Linked DNA regions of Homo sapiens. The protein of the gene in region 1 purifies or fractionates together with the protein of each later gene. This does not show direct contact. Each region holds a gene or a part of one and is shown on either strand. Other genes may lie near its edges. The genes, in order: DEUP1, HIP1, DGKH, KNSTRN, ANXA13 and MAFF.

What was found.
Region 2: the proteins of DEUP1 (region 1) and HIP1 purify together in Homo sapiens (affinity purification with mass spectrometry; 3 studies listed by BioGRID and IntAct, with this or other methods). This does not show direct contact.
Region 3: the proteins of DEUP1 (region 1) and DGKH purify together in Homo sapiens (affinity purification with mass spectrometry; 3 studies listed by BioGRID and IntAct, with this or other methods). This does not show direct contact.
Region 4: the proteins of DEUP1 (region 1) and KNSTRN purify together in Homo sapiens (affinity purification with mass spectrometry; 3 studies listed by BioGRID and IntAct, with this or other methods). This does not show direct contact.
Region 5: the proteins of DEUP1 (region 1) and ANXA13 purify together in Homo sapiens (affinity purification with mass spectrometry; 3 studies listed by BioGRID and IntAct, with this or other methods). This does not show direct contact.
Region 6: the proteins of DEUP1 (region 1) and MAFF purify together in Homo sapiens (affinity purification with mass spectrometry; 3 studies listed by BioGRID and IntAct, with this or other methods). This does not show direct contact.

The regions. Positions count from the first base shown.
Region 1 is NC_000011.10:93,368,742-93,372,241, reverse strand, and holds part of DEUP1 (deuterosome assembly protein 1), read right to left. Parts: intron 2,170-3,500; coding exon 2,056-2,169; intron 1,205-2,055; coding exon 962-1,204; intron 1-961. UniProt on the Homo sapiens protein: Key structural component of the deuterosome, a structure that promotes de novo centriole amplification in multiciliated cells.
Region 2 is NC_000007.14:75,553,942-75,557,441, reverse strand, and holds part of HIP1 (huntingtin-interacting protein 1), read left to right. Parts: intron 1-630; coding exon 631-732; intron 733-1,272; coding exon 1,273-1,416; intron 1,417-1,890; coding exon 1,891-2,026; intron 2,027-2,915; coding exon 2,916-3,002; intron 3,003-3,221; coding exon 3,222-3,329; intron 3,330-3,500. UniProt on the Homo sapiens protein: Plays a role in clathrin-mediated endocytosis and trafficking. Involved in regulating AMPA receptor trafficking in the central nervous system in an NMDA-dependent manner. Regulates presynaptic nerve terminal activity.
Region 3 is NC_000013.11:42,205,648-42,209,147, reverse strand, and holds part of DGKH (diacylglycerol kinase eta), read right to left. Parts: intron 3,110-3,500; coding exon 3,002-3,109; intron 190-3,001; coding exon 76-189; intron 1-75.
Region 4 is NC_000015.10:40,385,721-40,389,220, reverse strand, and holds part of KNSTRN (small kinetochore-associated protein), read right to left. Parts: intron 2,860-3,500; coding exon 2,727-2,859; intron 2,063-2,726; coding exon 2,015-2,062; intron 1-2,014. UniProt on the Homo sapiens protein: Essential component of the mitotic spindle required for faithful chromosome segregation and progression into anaphase.
Region 5 is NC_000008.11:123,682,844-123,685,393, reverse strand, and holds part of ANXA13 (annexin A13), read left to right. Parts: intron 1-671; coding exon 672-784; intron 785-2,550.
Region 6 is NC_000022.11:38,208,494-38,211,993, forward strand, and holds part of MAFF (transcription factor MafF), read left to right. Parts: intron 1-3,500. UniProt on the Homo sapiens protein: Since they lack a putative transactivation domain, the small Mafs behave as transcriptional repressors when they dimerize among themselves.

The DNA.
Region 1 (3,500 bases):
AAATACATATTTTGGGCCGGGCGCGGTGGCTCACGCCTGTAATCCCAGCACTTTGGGAGGCCGAGGCGGGCGGATCACGAGGTCAGGAGATCGAGACCATCCCGGCTAAAACGGTGAAACCCCGTCTCTACTAAAAATACAAAAAATTAGCCGGGCGTAGTGGCGGGCGCCTGTAGTCCCAGCTACTTGGGAGGCTGAGGCAGGAGAATGGCGTGAACCCAGGAGGCGGAGCTTGCAGTGAGCCGAGATCCCGCCACTGCACTCCAGCCTGGGCGACAGAGCGAGACTCCGTCTCAAAAAAAAAAAAAAAGAAATACATATTTTGTAAAGAAATTGGTAATGACCAATTTTGATGAATGCTGTATAACCTTCCTAAAGGTTGCAAGAAATAGACAAAAAAGAAAAAAACATTATTCAGTTAAGAAAAAAAATTAATGCTTGTTAAACCATCAATCATATTTGTCAATGTGAAAGTTACCTAAAAATAAATTCTAGGTTACTGTTTGATAAATGATTATGATAAGATTACCAGTGATAAATCACTGGAGTCATCTCCATAGCTCTCACTGAGGTTACTAAATTGTTGAACCCTTCACGATTTCCTGTATCTTTAACCCAGGATTCTTCTGAGTCAAAGAAACACAGGGTAAGAGAAAATAGTGGGGGAAGAGGGTAGTACATGGCTAAAGGCATAGAGGTCCGTAAGTGACCACTATTATATTGCACTGGTAATACATTATTATTATGCCACCGCAGAACCAAAGTGCACTCTAAGTGTGGTAACATACTTATGGGATTATTGAATCTACGCATCAAGTGCGAATTACTAAGAGGAAATATGAATGGAATCTTCACATATATTAATAATAGAAAACTACCATTCTAATCATTCTAATCTCTATATGTGTTACCATTTATACAAGTCATGGACAATATTAGTTGAAAAAAAATTAATCTTCACCTGGCACTGTCTTTGGTACATTTTCAGTTCTTGCAAGAGCTTCTGATTTTCATCTTGTAATTTATTCCTGCTTAGTGCTATCTCATTTACAGCTGATTTCAGTTTTTCAATAATGAACTCATCTCTTTCATTGATTTCACAATTGGGATCTGGGTCACATATCAAACGAGGAATTTCAGAGCTGCTGTCTTCTAAGCACTGTTTTTTACCATTTAGTTGAGTTTGGTAACTTTGTGCCTGTTTCTGAAAAATATAAAAACTGTGTAACTCAAATGAAGAATGTCATATTTAAGCTTACATGAAGTTCAAGAATGATAGAAAAGAATTAGTAGGAATATCTTTAAATATGTTACTACATAATGAAAGTTGGGTCTTTGTAATTCAGTCTTATATTTGTTTTAAAATTTCAATTTCAGATGGCATATAGAGAAAATATATTTGTATAACCTCAGAGCAAAGATGTAGAGTAGAGAAGGAGGTTAGTGGTAGTAAAGCCATACTAAGCAAGAAAAAAAATCTAGAAGGTGTAAAAAATTCAATTATACAATGGTTGAAAAAAGTCTATAACCAAAAATAAATAAAAACAAACAATTTGATTGTAGGGGAAAAGTTGTCAATGCATGTAACAGAGTTAATAATTCCTAGTGTACAAACACTTCTACACATCAATAAGAAAAGGGCAAACAATGCAAAAGAAAAATGGGCAAAGTTTATGAATAGGCAATTCACAGAAAGACCTGAGATAGGCTAAAAAGTATATGAGGAGATGTTCAGTCTTACAAGTAGCCAGGGAAATACAAAGTAAAGCAAGCAATCGTAAATTCTTTGAGTGCCTTGCCTGTAGGCATGCAAAAACATATGCTATTTAATGACACAATAACAATGGAATTTTAAATAGCTCCATCCTTTGAGACATGTAGACTAAACTCACCATTAACAGATATTCTATGCACTTGTGACTGTACCCACCTTTGGACCTACTCTCGTTTTTTCTTAGTTGGCATGTCTGTTTGTAAATAGATTACTGGTGAATGGTAAAGATACCAATATTTAACTTCTGCTTTTGATTTAGAGAATAGTATTAGATAACTTACCTGAAACTGATTACACTTCTCAGATAATAATTTTTGTTGAGCATCTAAAGAAATCAGATGAGTCTGATATAATATCTCTTGCTTGTCCCATTCTCTTGACTTTGCTCTAAATTCCTTTTAAAAAGTGGGGAGACAAACATATTTAAAAATGTTATTCATTTTAAAGTACAGCAAATAAGGCTTCTTTCATTTGTACATCTTCATTCTGAGAAAAAAAAAGTAAATCCATTCTTTTTTTTTTTTTTTTTTTTTTTTTTGAGACGGAGTCTCGCCGTCGCCCAGGCTGGAGTGCAGTGGCGCAATCTCGGCTCACTGCAGGCTCCGCCCCCTGGGGTTCACGCCATTCTCCTGCCTCAGCCTCCCGAGAAGCTGGGACTACAGGCGCCCGCCACCTCGCCCGGCTAATTTTTTGTATTTTTAGTAGAGACGGGGTTTCACCGTGTTAGCCAGGATGGTCTCGATCTCCTGACCTCGTGATCCGCCCGCCTCGGCCTCCCAAAGTGCTGGGATTACAGGCGTGAGCCACCGCGCCCGGCCGTAAATCCATTCTTTACCTATTAGGGAAAACAAACAAAAGAAAAGGTGTCAAATCATTCATGTTGGATTTTTTACCATCTCTAATTTTTGCTAGGAAAATACAGAATTTGTCACTTATTGTTAAAAATGTAAAAAGTCTGTCTTATAACAAATACTTATTACTAATAAGGGAATTTCAAACAACTTTTTTTTTTTTTTGCATTTGCCACTACTTTCTTTCTATTTCTTGACACGAAATATTTTTTCCTTCATTCACTCAGTTGCCAAATTTCTCCTCTTGTTTTTTTAGAGGGTGGGGCTTGGACTTATTTAGTGACTATTAAGGACTGAATGTTTGTGTCCCCCACAACAAATACATATGTCAAGCCTAAACCCCAAAGTGACAGCATTATGAAATGGGGCCTTTGGGAGGTAATTAAGTCATGAGAGTGAAGCTCTCATGAATGGGATGAGTGCTCTTATAAGAAGAGCTATGAGAGATTTTGTTTCCTCTCTCTTTCTTTCTCCCTGCCATCTGAGGATACAAAGAGCAGACAGCTATCTGTGAACCAGGAGAAGGGCCCTCACCAGAATCTGACTATGCTGGGGGATATGGTTTGGCTCTGTGTCCCCATCCAAATCTCACATTGAATTGTGATCCCGAGTGTGTGTGTGTGTTGGGGGGTGGCTGGTGGGCACGGGGGTGGTTTCTTTTTTTTCTTTTTTCTTTTTTTTGAGATGGAGTCTCGCTCTGTTGCTCAGGCTGGAGTGCAGTGGCACGATCTTGGCTCACTGCAACCTCTACCTCCCAGGTTCAAGTGATCCTCCTGTCTCAGCCTCCTGAGTAGCTGGGATTACAGTCACGTGCCACTACACCCGGATAATTTTTTGTATTTTTAGTAGAGACAGCATTTCACCATGTTGGTCAG
Region 2 (3,500 bases), on another chromosome or scaffold:
ACAAAGGCTTTCCAAGGATGAGGCTGGTGGAGAGTTTGAGGAAAGGAAAACACATGGGTGGCAGAGAGAGAGGGATGAGCGTTTTTTTTTGTTTGTTTGTTTTGTTTGTTTGTTTTTTGAGACGGCAGTAATCCCAGGACTTTGGGAGGCTGAGGGGGGTGTGGATCACCAAGTCAGGAGTTCGAGACCAGCCTGGCCAATATGGTGAAACCCCATCTCTACTAAAAATACAAAAGTTAGCCAGGTGTGATGGCGTGTGCCCGTAGTCCCAGCTGCTTGGGAGGCTGAGGCACAAGAATCTCTTGAACCTTGGAGGTGGAGGTTGCAGTGAGCTGAGACTGCACCACTGCACTCCAGCCTGGGCAACAACAGCGAGACTCCGTCTCAAAAATAAATAAATAAATAAATAAATAAATAAATAATAAAAAATCCTTCCTTGACATTCCACATTTTCAGTACACTCTGGGGTCTTGCCTCCTCCTCCCACACCCTGCACTTTTTTGGGGGGGTGTAACTTACATACAGTAGAGTTTACAGATCTCTTGTTGATCGCTTGGGACGTTTTTACATTTTTATATTCTTTGTCACTGTCACCCAGATCAGAGTCCCTCTGTTTTTCTTCTCTTTCAGACTCAAGAACAGCTGGAAGTTCTAGAGAGCTTGAAGCAGGAACTTGCCACAAGCCAACGGGAGCTTCAGGTTCTGCAAGGCAGCCTGGAAACTTCTGCCCAGGTAAATACCTCCTTTTTTTTTTTGGAGATAGAGTCTTCTTCTGTCACTCAGGTTGGAATGCAGTGGTGCGATCGCAGCTCACTGCAGCCTCCACCTCCCTGGGCTCAGGTGATCCTCCCCACTTAGCCCCCCGAGTAACTGGGACTACAGGCACACACCCCTACACCTGGCTAGTTTTTGTATTTTCTTTGGTAGAGACGGGGTTTCACTATGTTGCCCAGGCTGGTCTCGAACTCCAGGGCTCAAGTGATCCTCCCACCTCAGCCTCCTAAAGTGCTGGGATTACAGACATGAGCCTTCATGCCCGGCCTCCTTTCTTGCCCCACCCCTGGCTTTGGCGTTGCTGTCATCCACCATCCTTGGCCTGGCCAAGTCAGCCCCCACTGCAATCAGTGTGTCCCCGGGAGGGAATCAGAGTGGCAGGTTAAAGAGCCATCACCTTCCCAGTCCTTGCAACCCGGTGGTGGGTTGGACCTCTGGGAAGTAGGGACTGTTTAACTCAACCAGCGTCTCCCTCTTTCCTTGTGGTCACCTTTGCAGTCAGAAGCAAACTGGGCAGCCGAGTTCGCCGAGCTAGAGAAGGAGCGGGACAGCCTGGTGAGTGGCGCAGCTCATAGGGAGGAGGAATTATCTGCTCTTCGGAAAGAACTGCAGGACACTCAGCTCAAACTGGCCAGCACAGAGGCAAGTCACGGACATGGACACGAGCGAGCACCTGTGAATTCCCACCGAGGGCCTCTGCGCATGCACGGAGGCTGGGAGGACCCCGGGGCTGCTGAGAAGGGGTTTGGGGCCTTGGCCTGATTGTGCAGACATTCTGTAGGTGTAATGCCAGCAGGCCCTGCATTGCCTGCAGAGTCCATGAGGGAAAGCAAACTGCTGTCTTTTTTGTATGAGAAGAGAAGTTTGGCATCTCCTCCCAGCCATGAGAAGCGGGCGCAGTGATCCATCCCCACAGCCTCTGTGGGCAGCCGCACATCGTGGGCAGCCGCACATCCTGTGCACACAGTTAAAGCGCCTTTCTCTGTCTCAGGCTTACTGGCTTGGACCTCATTGGCCATGACTTGAGCTAAGATGCTAAGAGCCCCAGCCAGGTCATCCTGCTCAGGTTCATTATGGAGTCTAGGGCAGACTCTCACCTCCCTGGACCATTTTTAGGAATCTATGTGCCAGCTTGCCAAAGACCAACGAAAAATGCTTCTGGTGGGGTCCAGGAAGGCTGCGGAGCAGGTGATACAAGACGCCCTGAACCAGCTTGAAGAACCTCCTCTCATCAGCTGCGCTGGGTCTGCAGGTACACTTGCAATTGCCCAGCTGGCAGGGGCCAGGTCCTTACAGCCTGAGACTCTGTTGATGTTGAATCTCATGTGAGACTTAGCTCAGGGGCTCTCAGCCCAGCAGCATGTCAGCATTACCTTAGGGGCGCCCAGGCCCCATCCTAGATCAGTTACATGTGGAAACTCTGTGCATTAGTGCCTATACACTAGTATTTTAGTATTTTCTTCCCCCCCCCCGCCCCCCCGCTTTTTGAGATAGGGTCTTACTCTGTTGCTCAGGCTAGAGTGCAGTGCCGTGGCTCACTGCAACCTCCGCTTCCTGGGCTCACACAATCCTCCCCACTCATTCTCCCAAGTAGCTGGGACTACAGGCACGCAACACCACGCCCAGCTAATTTTTGGTTTCGGTTTGTTGCTCAGACTGGTCTTGAAGACCTGGGCTCAGGCTATCCACCCACCTTGGCCTCCCAAAGTGCTGGGATTACAGGCATGAGCCACCATGCCTGGCCTTGGCTAATTTTTTAATTTTTGGTAGAGACGAGGTCTCACTCTATTGCCCAGGATGGTCCCAAACTTCTGAACTCCCACCTTGGCCTCTCAAAGTGCTGGAATTACAGGCATGAGACACCACGCCAGGCCCAGCAGTAGTATTTTCTAAAGCCCCCAGGTGTGATAGCTACTGCTTTAGACAGTGGGTCACACTGATAAAACACCCACCAGGAGCAGACAATTCTGTTTCTCTAAGGAAAAAACTATGGTCTGAATCAAGAGGTGATTACTCATGAACTTCACGTCTAGGCAGGAAGCTTACCCACTAGGTAAGCTCCTCCATTCAGTGCTTAATTAACGAGGATGAAGCCAGCTATGAGAACTTGCTCTGACCTTGCCCTGTGTTCCCTCTCACAGATCACCTCCTCTCCACGGTCACATCCATTTCCAGCTGCATCGAGCAACTGGAGAAAAGCTGGAGCCAGTATCTGGCCTGCCCAGAAGGTAAGAATGGCCAAGGACAGTCTCTGTCGGCTAGTGATGGCCAGACAGGGTTCAGAAGCACCTGAATGCGGGGATAGTGACAGGTCCCTCTGCATCAAGAAAGGCATGTAGGCAACTCATACAAGAAAGGCATGTAGGCAACTCATAAAACGGGAGGAGAGGGTATGAAAGTGTCACCATCAACCAGACCTGAGAAACTTCTCTTTCCAATCCTGGCAGACATCAGTGGACTTCTCCATTCCATAACCCTGCTGGCCCACTTGACCAGCGACGCCATTGCTCATGGTGCCACCACCTGCCTCAGAGCCCCACCTGAGCCTGCCGACTGTGAGTACCGGGGCATGAGGGGCTGTTCATGGACCAGGGGAGCAGGGGGCCTTTAAAAGTCTCTGTTGGGCCGGGCGCAGTGGCTCATGCCTGTAACTCCAGCACTTTGGGAGGCTGAGGCGGGCAGATCACTTGAGGTCGGGAGTTCAAGAACAGCCTGGCCAACATGGC
Region 3 (3,500 bases), on another chromosome or scaffold:
CGAGTTGTTTAGAATAGATTCCTTCAACCCTCCTTAGCCCAAGAAGTGCAGTCAGGTTTGACGAGAGAAACCAACCTGGGCTATTCGATGATGCTGCAGTTTAATGACCCTTGAAACTGCCATTTGCATGCTATCAAATATTGCTACAACTTCCAGGATCTTGTCATCAAAGGATGGTGCAGCAAATATCTGAAAGAAAAACTACATTACACTTCTACTGAATGTTTAGGTGAAGAGCACGTTAAGCAATGTAAACTGCAATATATATCTACATATATTTAATATATTTAATAATATATTTAAGTAAATATTATTAGGAAATAATAATCCAAGAAAAAAATCTCTGAAGATGACTTCCAATAAACCTAACTTTAAAAAGGGTTTTCAAATATACACGGATATACTACTCATACCTCTCATTAAACTACTCTTTGGACCAGTTAACTAATATATTTCTAAATAATTCACCTTGGAATAAAACATGTTAAATACATGTTCATACCTAATTCAAACATGTTAATAAGATGATACATGTAAGTTTTGGAAATCTAAAAAAAACTACAAAGGCGATATAGTGTCATAGAAAGGTGATATAGTTTCATAAAGTTAAAGCTAATGAAGATGCAAATTATGATCCAGTTTACTTGATATATTCTAAGGGAAATCTTTCAAGGTTTTACAAGCAATATACATATGTGCTTTATATTTTAATACAAAACTTTTGAGGGAACTTGAGAGTATGCAAATAGAAACCTCAGAAGATAAAAATTATGCAGACTTATTTTGTCTTTACATTAGATGCATTTTCACAAAATTAATTTACTCTAAAATTTTATATGTAGGCTGTATTACCTTACTCTCTCTTTTACTATATCATAAATAATATGCATCTGAAACAATTTTCAGTATAAAGTAATAAGCTAATTAAAACTTTCACTGAAAATATCAGGACACAAAGTTGCTAACATTGTAATTTGTAATTTTTTTATTATACTGCCTGAATTTAAACCCTGTCTCTGCTATTACTAACTGGAAACTTTGTCTTAGATTCTTCAGCAGTAAAAATCAAATAAACAACGTGGACATTAAATAATGAATGTGAAGCTCTTAGAACATTGTCGGACTACCTAGCAGGTGTTCAAGGAATGTTGGCTTTATTTACCTTAATCTCACTGATTTCTCCCCTTCAAAATACTTAATAGTGACAAGCAGACAAAAGATGCTTTTATACTCGAATAGGACTGGAATATATTTATGTCATGAAAATTACAAATACTTTCCAATTGATCTTATACTGTATCCCTATCTGTCCATTTAAGATCTTTGAGAATAACAGATCAGTAGGAACCATTATATCATTATATCATAAACTCAAATCAATGGATGTGACTCTTCAAATAAAGACTGTGATAACACTTCTCATTTTTACTGATATATATATATATATATATACACACTTTAATAATTGTGCCCTCTCTTTCATTCTTTTCACAACAATTACATTTGTAAGGTTGTGTTTTCTTCTTTTTCTAATATAGAAAAGTATGAAAAGAAAAACAAAAATAGCCCTAAACTCGACCGGCCAAATGAGCCCTCTTGATATTTCTGAAAATAAAAAATATATACACACACAAGTTTAGAAAATTAAAAGTACTGAGGCTGGATGCAGTGGCTCATCCCTGTAATCCTAGGACTTTGGGAGGCCGAGGTGGGTGGATCACCTGAGGTCAGAAGTTCGAGACCACCCTGGCCAACATGGTGAAACCCCCGTCTCTACTAAAAATGCAAAAATTAGCCAGGTGTGGTGGTGTGTGCCTGTAGTCCCAGCTACCCAGGAGGCTGAGGCAGGGGAACTGCTTGAACCTGAGAGGCAGAGGTTGTAGCGAGCTGAGATTACGCCATTGCACTCCAGTCTGAGCGACAGAGTAAGATTCTGTCTCAAAAAAGAAAGAAGGAAGGAAGGAAGGAAGGAAGGAAGGAAGGAAGGAAGGAAGGAAGGAAGGAAGGAAGGAAGGAAGGAAGGAGAGAGAAAGAGAAAGAAAGAAAGAAAGAAAGAAAGAAAGAAAGAAAGAAAGAAAGAAAGAAGGAAGGAAAGAAGGAAAGAAGGAAAGAAAGAAAGAAAAAGAAAGAAAGAAAGAAAGAAAGAAAGAAAGAAAGAAAGAAAGAAAGAAAAAGTAAAAGTACCAAAAGGTATTGTGGTAGGCAGAATAATGCCCCCTCTCTGCCCCCTAAAATGTCCATGTCCTAATCCCCCAAACCCGTGAATCTGTTACCTTACACAGCAAAAGGAACTTTGCAGATGTGATTAAATAAAGGGCCTTGAGATGGGGATGATCCTGGGTGATCTAGGTGGGCCCAATGTAATCACAGTGGTCATCAAAAGTGGAAGAGGAAGCAGCAGACATCAGAGAGATGCCATGTGAGAAGGATTCAACCTGCCTTTGCTGGCTTTGAAGATGGAGGGGAATGTGGGCAGCCTCGAGACGCTCCAAAGACAGGGAAATAAGAGTCTCCCTTAGAGCCTCCGGAAGGCAACAGCCCAGCTGACACCTTGATTTTAGCCCAGTAAGACTGTGCCAGTCTCCCATCATATACAACAGTAAGATGATAAATGTGTTTGAGGTGGCTAAATTTGTGTTAACTTGTTATAGCAGCGATAGAAAACAGATGCAGGTATAAAATTAAAAAGTAAAATCTTCCCTTCCTTATTTCATAAATCTACTTTCCAAAAGCAGACCCACTATTTAATGTTCATCCAGAAAATTGTGACATACATCCCAAGATACGAATATCTGTATCTTCAACATGAGAAAAGTTGGAGTACATCCACAAGAGACTGTTACAATAAAATCTTAAATAAATCTATTCCATGCCTCACTTACCCAATGCAAAATATTTAACATGAAATTAAACTACTATTCAACAGCCCATTTACAAAAGCAAATTATTCCAGTGATATAATTATTTTTGAGGAAACAAACTATTTACTCCCATTACTTACATCATCCTCTTTAGTTCCACCCCAAAAGTTAGTGCCTCCAGCATAGCTGGGAATGTTCAACACGGCTATGCCTTGCAAGCTGGGAAGAGGAATATACTGCCCATCACACTGTAAGGTAAAAAAAAAAAAAAAAAGTAGAGATTAGATAAAAAGAGCAGAACCACTAGTATGGAAGATACTAAAACACTAAAGATGAAGGACAATGGAGCACAGTGTGTTCGTAATGTCTGCTCTCTACACGTTACCAAATCATTTATCTTATTTTTTTTAATTAAAAAAAGTTTGAAGTATAAATAACTATAGCAGAAGTTATTACAAAAAACTGATTTTTAAAGAAATGCTTTACCTCTTTCCTCCAAAACCAGGGAGTCCTTTTCTTGAATCATTTTCAGGCCTTTTATGTACTTTCACCTGCATTGTGGTCCTCTATGTACTTATTTTAAGCATCTTTTTGAAAGCAGACTGGGTAAGAGAAAGTTGATCCTAACCATCTCACTTA
Region 4 (3,500 bases), on another chromosome or scaffold:
GCTGAGATTGCGCCATTGCACTCCAGCCTGGGTGGCAACAAGAGCAAAACTCCGTCTAAAAAAAAAAGAAAGAAAAATACGGCCTACAGAGTTACACAAACACGTCCCATTCTATCCTGGCTATTACACAGTGGTATATGACCTTCAGTGAGTTGCATAACCTCCCTGAGGCCTTGTTTCCTCATTTTTGAAATCAGGACAATACCCACATCTCATAGTATTATTATTATGAGTAATAAGAGAGAAAACACGTGTGCATTTCTTAGCCCAGTAGCTGGGCTATTATCTAATGTTAGTTTATCATCTAATAAACTCTAATATCACCAATTGTTGGGAGCAGGCCCCCCAAATCTGGCCATAAACTGGCCCCAAAACTGGCCATAAACAAAATCTCTGCAGCACTGTAACATGTTCATAAAGGCCCTAATGCCCATGCTGGAAGGTTGTGGGTTTACGGGAATGAGGGCTAGGAACACCTGGCCTGCCAAGGGCGGAAAACCACTTAAAGGCATTTTTTTTTTTTTTTGAGATGGAGTCTCGCTCCGTCGCCCAGGCTGGAGTGCAGTGGCGTGGTCTCGGCTCACTGCAAGCTCCACCTCCTGGGTTCACACCATTCTCCTGCCCCAGCCTCCCGAGTAGCTGGGACTACAGGCACCCGCCACCATGCCTGGCTAATTTTTTGTATTTTTAGTAGAGACGGTGAAACACCATAGTTAACCAGGATGGTCTCCTGACCTTGAGATCCACCCGCCTCGGCCTCCCAAAATCCTGGGATTACAGGCGTGAGCCACTGCGCCGGCCCTTAAAGGCATTCTTAAGCCACAAACAATAGCATGAGCAATCTGTGTCTTAAGAGCGTGTTCCTGCTGCAGTTAACTAGCCCAACCTATTCCTTTAATTCAGCCCATCCATTTCCCATAAGGGATACTTTTAGTTAATTTACTATCTATAGAAACAATGCTAATGACTGGTTTGCTGTTAATAAATACGTGGGCAAATCTCTGTTCGGGGCTCTCAGCTCTGAAGGCTGTGAGACCCCTGATTTCCCACTTCACACCTCTATATTTCTGTGTGTGTGTCTTTAATTCCTCTAGCGCCGCTGGGTTAGGGTCTCCCCGACCAAGCTGGTCTCAGCAACCAATATTAGAGTTTTTTCTTAAAGTTCTCAGTCTTTTTTGCTAGTATTTTGTCTTCAAAACTTTTTTATTTTTGTAAGTCAGAGTCTTGCTCTGTCACCCAGGCTGGAATGCAATGACGTGATCTTGGCTCACTGCAATCTCTGCCTCCCGGGATGAAGTGATCCTCCTGCCTCAGCCTCCTGAGTAGCTGGGATTACAGACATGCGCCACCATGCCTGGCTAATTTTTGTATTTTTAGTAGAGATGGGGTCCCATCATGTTTCCCAGGCTAGACTCGAACTCCTGACCTCAGGTGATCCACCCACCTTGGCCTCCCAAAGTGTTGCGATTACAGGTGTGAGCTGGTGTGCCCTGCTGTCTTCAAAACTTTTAAGATATGCCCAAATAATAGATCTGGAACTAAAACCTATTTGTACAGACTTTTCAGCTTATTATTTCTATTTCTGATAGTGCAAAACTTCCAAACTAGCCTCAAAGATGAGACATGAATCCTTCTCCAGGTTTTCACCACCACCACCACCAGAATCTTCATCTCGAGATCACTAACTACATACACCCAGCCCTTCCTCTCCTGAAGGCTTTACCCTCCTGTTGATGGGCCATAGCTAAGTGTGATTTCCAATCAGCAGTGGTCCTGGCGTGGAGTCCAAAAAGCTCTTGCTTGAGACACAAGATAGTAGCACCAGTGATTCTTGCACTGACAATGGTTCTTACACCTAGCTGTGCCTCACCCCTGAAAATTCCACTCAGGTTCCTGAGGTGGAACCCAGACCCTAACACAGTAAACAAGTCCCACAAATGATTCTGATGCAGAACCAAGGATTGAGATCCACTACCCTAGAATAGTGGCCAAGTTGATTTACCCTGATGCTCACCCTTTTCTGACATTCCTTCTGGTGGCAGTGTCAGTAGCTTTCATTTGCCTAGGAGGGCAGAAACAAAGAAATGAATCAGAGACTTACAGTACTGTTAAGTGTGCTGTGAACAGGCAGAACAAAGAGCTTGAGTTTCTGAGGAAAGAACCAGACATAAAAGGCAAATGGCACAAGCTTAAGAGCTCTGAGAGACTATGCATTACTGCTTCGGCACAGATTATTGAAAAGGCTTTTTAGTAGCAAAGGGGCATGCCTCCGACCACCCTAACAACCTGACAGAGCTGTTCCTCTCAAGATGGCGTGGCTATCTCATGTCAACCTCACTCACCTGGAACTGACTGCTGGCTGGGGACATACACACACACTAGGGCTGGACTGTGTGGTCAGAGCAGCAACCTAGGATAACAACTAGTCCCCACCCTGCATGACTACCCCTCAGGGTTGCTGTATGACTACAGTGCTGCCACTTGTATGCTCAGAGCAAGCGATGAAAGAGGAAAGAACACCTCTTATAACTCTGGCTGTGTCTCTTCAGAAAGATCAACACAGAGGGTTCTGGCACAGAGCTCAGCAATGCTGCACTGCTCTGGGCCACTGATTGAAGGCCAGTTGTTCAGGAGACTTGTGTTGTCCAAAACTCTGTTTTCTAATTCTTTGTATTGAGCAATTTCTAGGAAGATGTTCTAACTGGATACTAATGATCCGTTCTCACCCATTCTCTCGTCTCAGTTTGGTGATTTTTGTAACATCATTCTCTGGACCTCCTGAATGAAGCTGTTTGGAAACATCGACTTCTTTGGACCTAACAGGTAAGAGACTCTTAGAAGTGGCCCGAGTTTGTGTGTCTGCAAAGGAAAATGAGAGGTAAAGCTTCTGGCATCATGACCCGACAGTTGCAACCCTGTAACAAACAGAGCCCCATTCGAAGTTGTCATAAATCTTTATTTTACTTTATTTTAAAAAGTATTATTTATTTTTTTGAGACAGAGTCTTGCTCTGTGGCCCAGGCTGGAGTACAGTGGTGTGATCTTGGCTCACTGCAACCTCCACCTCTTGGGTTCAAACGATTCTCCTGCCTCAGCCTCCCGAGTAGCTGGACTATAGGCACCTCAAATATGTTTTAAAATTTTAAAAATAGAGACAGGGTCTCACTATGTTGCCCAGCCTGGTCTCGAACTCCTGGGCTCAAGCAATCCTCCTGCCTTGGCCACTCTGGCGTGAGCCACGATGCCTGGCCAAATCTTTATTTTCATTCTGGCAAATTTCAACATGTGAAGATTAATTCAAAAGAATAAAACTTCCAGGCTAATTGGCAATAAAAACCAAAATTATTTAAACGTGACAGTACAGCATGTTTGAGGGTAGCCAAAAGTTTCATTGAACTGAAAGGTGTAGGCTGTAAAAGTGAACATGGAGATGGACACCAGCAGAGAGCAGGGTGGAAGTTAGCAGGTAAAACATGCCTGAATCCTTGTACCATCTCATT
Region 5 (2,550 bases), on another chromosome or scaffold:
GAATAGAGACCACGCTTCATTAAGCTGTAGATAGATCAAAGCTGGAAGGCAAGGGGAAGCCAGGAAAGAGCAAATAGCAGCATCGTAGGAAAGTGATCTTTAAAAAGGATCAAACATTTCATCAAGTCCACATCCCGGATTGCAAACCAAAAGATCGTGGGGAACCTGGAAAAGGTTCAGAGATGAGGCTTGCAAAACAACCCCAGTGAGGAAAAACAAAGAGTAGGGAGGTTGTTGAGCATAGGAGAGCAGGCGGCTGTCCAACTGGATACATTGTCAAGATGATGAAGTTTTGTTCCAGAAGGTTGCTGGCCAATCTGTTTCCCTTCAGAACCCTAGGACAGCACCAGAGATTTCACTCGATAGGGAAAGTTATTTCTGCTGGGAAATAACGAGAATCATGGACGTGGCCGGGAGGGCCCGAGGATGCCACAGCTCTCCTCTAGAGGGTCTTCAGGGGACAGGAGGGGAGCTATGCTTGAAGATTCCAGGTGCTCTGACCAGGGAATCTTCCAAATCTCATTTCGCAACGGTGTCAAGTCAGCTCTTTTCACACCTCTGTCTCACCATCCAGTCAGCTCGAAGGGCAGCCAGGTGACATTTAGGGGGGTCCCAAGGTCATTCCACAAAACGTGAAAGCCTCACATTCTCTTTTCCTTTGTCCTGCCCAGTGAGATGTGCCCAGGATTGTGAGGACTATTTTGCTGAACGTCTGTACAAGTCGATGAAGGGTGCGGGGACCGATGAGGAGACGTTGATTCGCATAGTCGTGACCAGGGCCGAGGTAAGACACACTCCGACTCCAAAGAGGCGGCTGCAACTTCTCTTTTTTCCACCACTGATGTCATCAACAAATAGTTTCTATTAAGGGCCTATTTACAGAAAAAGTAAAACAGAGACGGCCCCTTGCCTTCCCAGAATTTGCAGAAGACATTGTGCTCTGCTTCAATCTGTTTCTTTTTATAAAAATACAATAATGATCGTTGCTTCTTTTTTTGTCCTCTGTGGCTCTGGAGAGCTAGTGGAGGGGCGCAGAGGCAACCATGTCGAGCAGTTCTCAGGGGCTGCAGCTATGCATGGCTCCATGTTAAGGAAGACAAAACAAACACACTTGAAAGAGGTCAACCAGCAGCAGGAACAAAAAGAGAATGATTTCTGAATTCCTGAGTGAGGCCTTTCCTTAACTGAACACACTGCAGAAGCAAGCACATCAGCATAAGGCAATGGTTCTCAATCTTTTTAAAAACTATTGCTGTTCTAAGGAACCTTTTTAGACACGTGTTTCTTCATTGCCATCCCTTCCCCACAAGAAATGTTAACACCAGAGATAATACTACAAATCTGTTTATATACCATGTGGATATCAGTGCTTTATACATAAAAAAATTAAGGGCTTTTTCACCCCCTAAAAACCAATTTGTGCTTGCTCTCGGAGAATGTGTATGTATAAGAAAGAAAAGGGAGAGGAAGAGCCAACGGCTTGGGAGCAGCCGTCAAGATCACAGCTGGTCGGGTGCAATGGCTCATGCCTGTAATCCCAGCACTTTGGGAGGCCGAGGTGGGTGGATCGCCTGAGGTCAGGAGTTCGAGACCGGCCTGGCCAACATGGTGAAACCCCGTCACTACTAAAAATACAAAAATTAGCTGGGCATGGTGGCACACACTTGTAGTCCCAGCTACTCAGGAGGCTGAGGCATGAGAATTGCTTGAACCCAGAAGGTGGAGGTTGCAGTGAGCCAAGATGGTGCCACTACACTCCAGTCTGAGTAACAGAGCGAGACTCGGTCTCAAAAAAAAAAAAAAAAAAAAGGTCACAGCTAACAGTTCGGGATATGGGGCCACAGACAGAAGGTGGTACAAAATAAAGGGGAAGTGGCATTTCATCGGCAGCAGGAGAAGCCTTGGGGAATGAAGTGGAACTAAGCACTTGAAAACCACAGACATCTTCCCTCAAAAAAAAAAAAAAAAAGTGGTTAAATGAAGGGGGAGGTGAAGGGGGAGGGACACCAACCCAAATTCTGATCCATGGCTTCTTAACAAATAATGCTTAACATCTGACACTGTTTTTAAATATAACTTTGCAACAAGATGGTTCTTGCTTTTTTATTTCTATTCCTGGAATTTCTCCTCCCCTCCTTTCTCCTCCTCCACAACTCATCTTTTTCTATTGAAGGCCATGTCTCTCTCTCTCCCCTCTTTCCCTTTGCCAGTCTCTCTGCTCTGCTCCTGCCATGCCTCTGCCTCTCTCCTCCATGGCTCCAAATCCCTCTCCCTCCTTTCTCTCCAGGTCTTCTGCCTTGTCCGTCCCTCTGTCTGTTAGCAACTCGACCTCCAGCCAAAGTCACTGAGAGATGAGAGATCTTGAGGGACTCAAAAGGGACAGGTTGAACACAATGAAGACCCAGGATTCCAAATGACCCCCAGAGAGACTGGATCCATCCGAAGGGCTTGTGAGGGTTCCGTGATCACTCCGACATGGCCCACGGAGTGTTTTATTCCAAGAAGCTCTGTCCCATCTCAGAATCAACCACACGTCCTGGGCCATCTCAA
Region 6 (3,500 bases), on another chromosome or scaffold:
AGAGGAGGAAGAATTAGAGACAGGGCCAGGAGGTACTGAACTACGTTTCGGCTTGGAACCCGGCTTGGTGACAAGCTGGGTGATGGCGTCAGAGACTCTGACCATCCACCCTTCCCCAGTGCCTGCTCCCTGCCAGGTCTTGAGATGGGTGGCCTCAAGCACCCAGAGCTGACTCAGCCTCTCCCTGTCTGGTGGAGAGACAGCAAGGAAATACAACCCATTACACACAGGGGTGGGGGTCCCTAACAAGTCCTAGGGATCAGGGAGGGCTTCCTGGAGGAGGAGATGTCTGCACCCAGGGCCGAAGGATGAGTAGGAGTCTGCCAAACAAAGTAGAGGGGAGTGAGGGGAGAGAAATATCATGGGGTGGGAGGTGGCTCAGAGGCAAGAAAGCGCGGGTGGGAGGAAGTGAAAGAAATTCTGTGTGGCTGGAGCACAGAGTGGAGGTGGCAGTGGTGGGAAATGGGCGTGGGGCTGGACACACAGGGCCTGGGGTGCTGGGAGGGTGGGTCTGGACTCCATCCTTAGGATAGTAGGGAACCATGGAAGGTTTTTTTTTTGTTTGCTTGTTTGTTTTTGTGTTTGTTTTTGAGATGGAGTATCACTCTGTCGCCCAGGCTGGAGTGCAGTGTCGCGATCTCGGCTCACTGCATGCTTCACCTCCCGGGTTCACGCCATTCTCCTGCCTCAGCCTCCTGATAGCTGGGACTACAGGTGCCTGCCACCACACCCGGCTAATTTTTTGTATTTTTTAGTAGAGACGGGGTTTCACCATGTTAGCCAGGATGGTCTCAATCTCCTTACCTTGTGATCCGCCCGCCTCAGCCTCCTAAAGTGCTGGGATTATAGGCATGAGCCACCTTGCCCAGCCGAACCATGGAAGGCTTTAATCTGGCTGGTGGCATGGTCAGATTCGCGTGGTGCAAAGATTGTCCAGCTGCTGTGTGGGAATGAGCTGAGACCAGCAGGGAGGTGTGCTGGGACCTCCCCAGGTGTGTGTAGGGTGGTGAGGGTGACCACTTAAGAGGCCTGCATTGGGTTGGGCGTGGTGGCTCACACCTGTAATCCCGGCACTTCAGGAGGCCGAGGCAGGTGGATCACCTGAGGTTAGGAGTTCGAGACCAGCCTGACCAATATGGTGAAACTCTGTCTCTACTAAAAATACAAAAATTAGCTGGGCGTGGTGGTAGGCGCCTGTAGTCCCAGCTATTCAGGAGGCTGAGGCAGAGCTAATCGCTTGAACCCAGGAGGCGGAGGTTGCAGTGAGCTGAGATCCTGTCACTGCACTCCAGCCTGGGCGACAGAGCGAGACTCCATCTCAAAAAAAAAAAAAAAAAAAAAAGGGAAAAAAAAAAGGCCTGCATTGAAAGGTAGGATCGGTGAGGTTGACATGTAAACGTCTCCAGATAGTATCTGAAAGGTCAGGGTAGCCAGCAGATCTCATATGACTTTTCCAGGTAGGATGGGAGTGCACAGAGGCCCCCAAGGAGAGCTAGGTGGGCAGCCAGGGCCTGAGCCCCCTAGGATTTGGAGTGCTAGGCAGGGAAACTGAGGCCAGAGCCCAGGCTAAGCCGGCATGTTCAGCAGTGGGGGGTCGCAGCTCAGGGGTCACCCCATGAAGCCACTGGTCTTCACCGTGGATCCGCACAGGGGTCTAAAGCTGCCTGGGTCCTGACCTGGCACTCTGGGTCCACCCAGCTACCCCCAGCGAAACCTGGGTGACCCCTAAGACTCTCCTGCTTAAGGGCCACAGTGGCTGCCCCTGTCAGGGGATCTCTGCAAGCGCCAACTTCCTTCTGTCCCACTCCTTCCTTCCCTGTGAGCTGCCAGACCCCCTGACTGTGTGGGCTGGGAGGAGCTGGGGAGTTTCCTGAGAAGCCCTGGACTGTCCCCACCTTGGCCTGAGTCACACTGAGAACTCAGCAAGGATTCCTTGAGTATCTGCGAGGTGCCAGGCGCGGTTCTAGGCATGGGGGAGGCCGCGGTGAATCAGGTATAAGTTCTGCCCTCATGGAGCTGGCATTCTAATCGGGGGGTTGGGAGGGACAGACACTGAACAAATAACCACCATATATGTGAGTGATGACAATTACACATGGGGAAACCTGAGGTGGGGAAGGGACACAGGGAGTGTGTGTGTGTGTGTGTGTGTGTGTGTGTGTGTGTGTCCGTGTGTGTATCAGGGGTTGCAAATTCTAAACTGAGTGAACATGAGATTTGAAGAGACCTCAGGAGGTGATGGAGCAAACTTTGTGGATATCTAGGGAACAAGGATGCCAACAGAGGCCATGCGTCGTGGCTCATGCCTATAATCCCAACACTTTGGGAGGCGGAGGCAGGCGGATCGCTTGAGCCAAGGAGTTCAAGACCAGCCTGGGCAACATGATGAAACTCTGTCTGTACAAAAAGTACAAAAATTGGCCAGGTGTGGTGGCATGCACCTATAGTTCCAGCTACTAGGGAGGCTGAGGTAGGAGGACCACTTGAGCCTGGGAGTTTGAGGCTGCAATGAGCTGTGATCGTGTCACTGCACTCCAGCCTGTAACGGAGTGAGTGAGACCCTGTATAAAAAACAAAAACAAAAACAAAAACGCCAGCAGAGGGACCAGCCAGTGCAAAGGCCCTGGAGAGGAGCGTGCATCCTGTGTTGAGGAAGGGCGGGTGTGGCTGAGGCAGGGGAAACAAAAGGAAGCCAAGTAGGGCTGAGGTTGGAGAAGGGATGCTGGGGAGCACTTTCTTTTTTTTTTTTTTTTCAGACGGAGTCTCACTCTCGCCCAGGCTGGAGTGCAGTGGCACAATCTTGGCTCACTGCAACCTCCGCCTCCCGGGTTCAAGCGATTCTTTTGTCTCAGCCTCCCAAGTAGCTGGGACTACAGGCACGTGCCACCACGCCCGGCTAATTTTCGTATTTTTAGTAGAGACGGGGTTTCACCATGTTGGCCAGGCTGGTCTCGATCTCCTGACCTCATGATCCACCCGCCTTGGCCTCCCAAAGTGCTGGGATTACAGGCGTGAGCCACCGCGCCCGGCCACTGGGGATCACTTTCTGCAGCACTTTGTGGGCCATGGTGACAACTCTGGCTTTACTCCAGTGAGCCGTGGGAAGGTCCTGAGAGAGGTGTGACATGAGCTGACTTAACACAGCTACCTGTGTCACCCAGGGGGAAAGTGAGGCACAGAAAGAGTGGCTGACCTATCAGAACCACACAACTAGAGAGCGAGACCACCCCCAAAAGGCCCCAGGTGTGTCTGGCACCAAGGTCCATGTGCTTTCCATTTCTGCACCTTGTCCCTGGGAGACACCCCGGTCCTGCCAGAATGTGTCAGAGGCTGAGCCAACCCGTGAGGTCAACCCTGTAGACAGCTCAAGGAACCAGGACTTGGATCTGGCTTTTGCCCTCTGCTGTCCACAAAACTGGGTGATGCTCTTTCCGATACGGTACGTGTTTATAGGATGCTACAGCTCAGATCACAAAGCATCTTCCTTTGTTTTCTTTTTA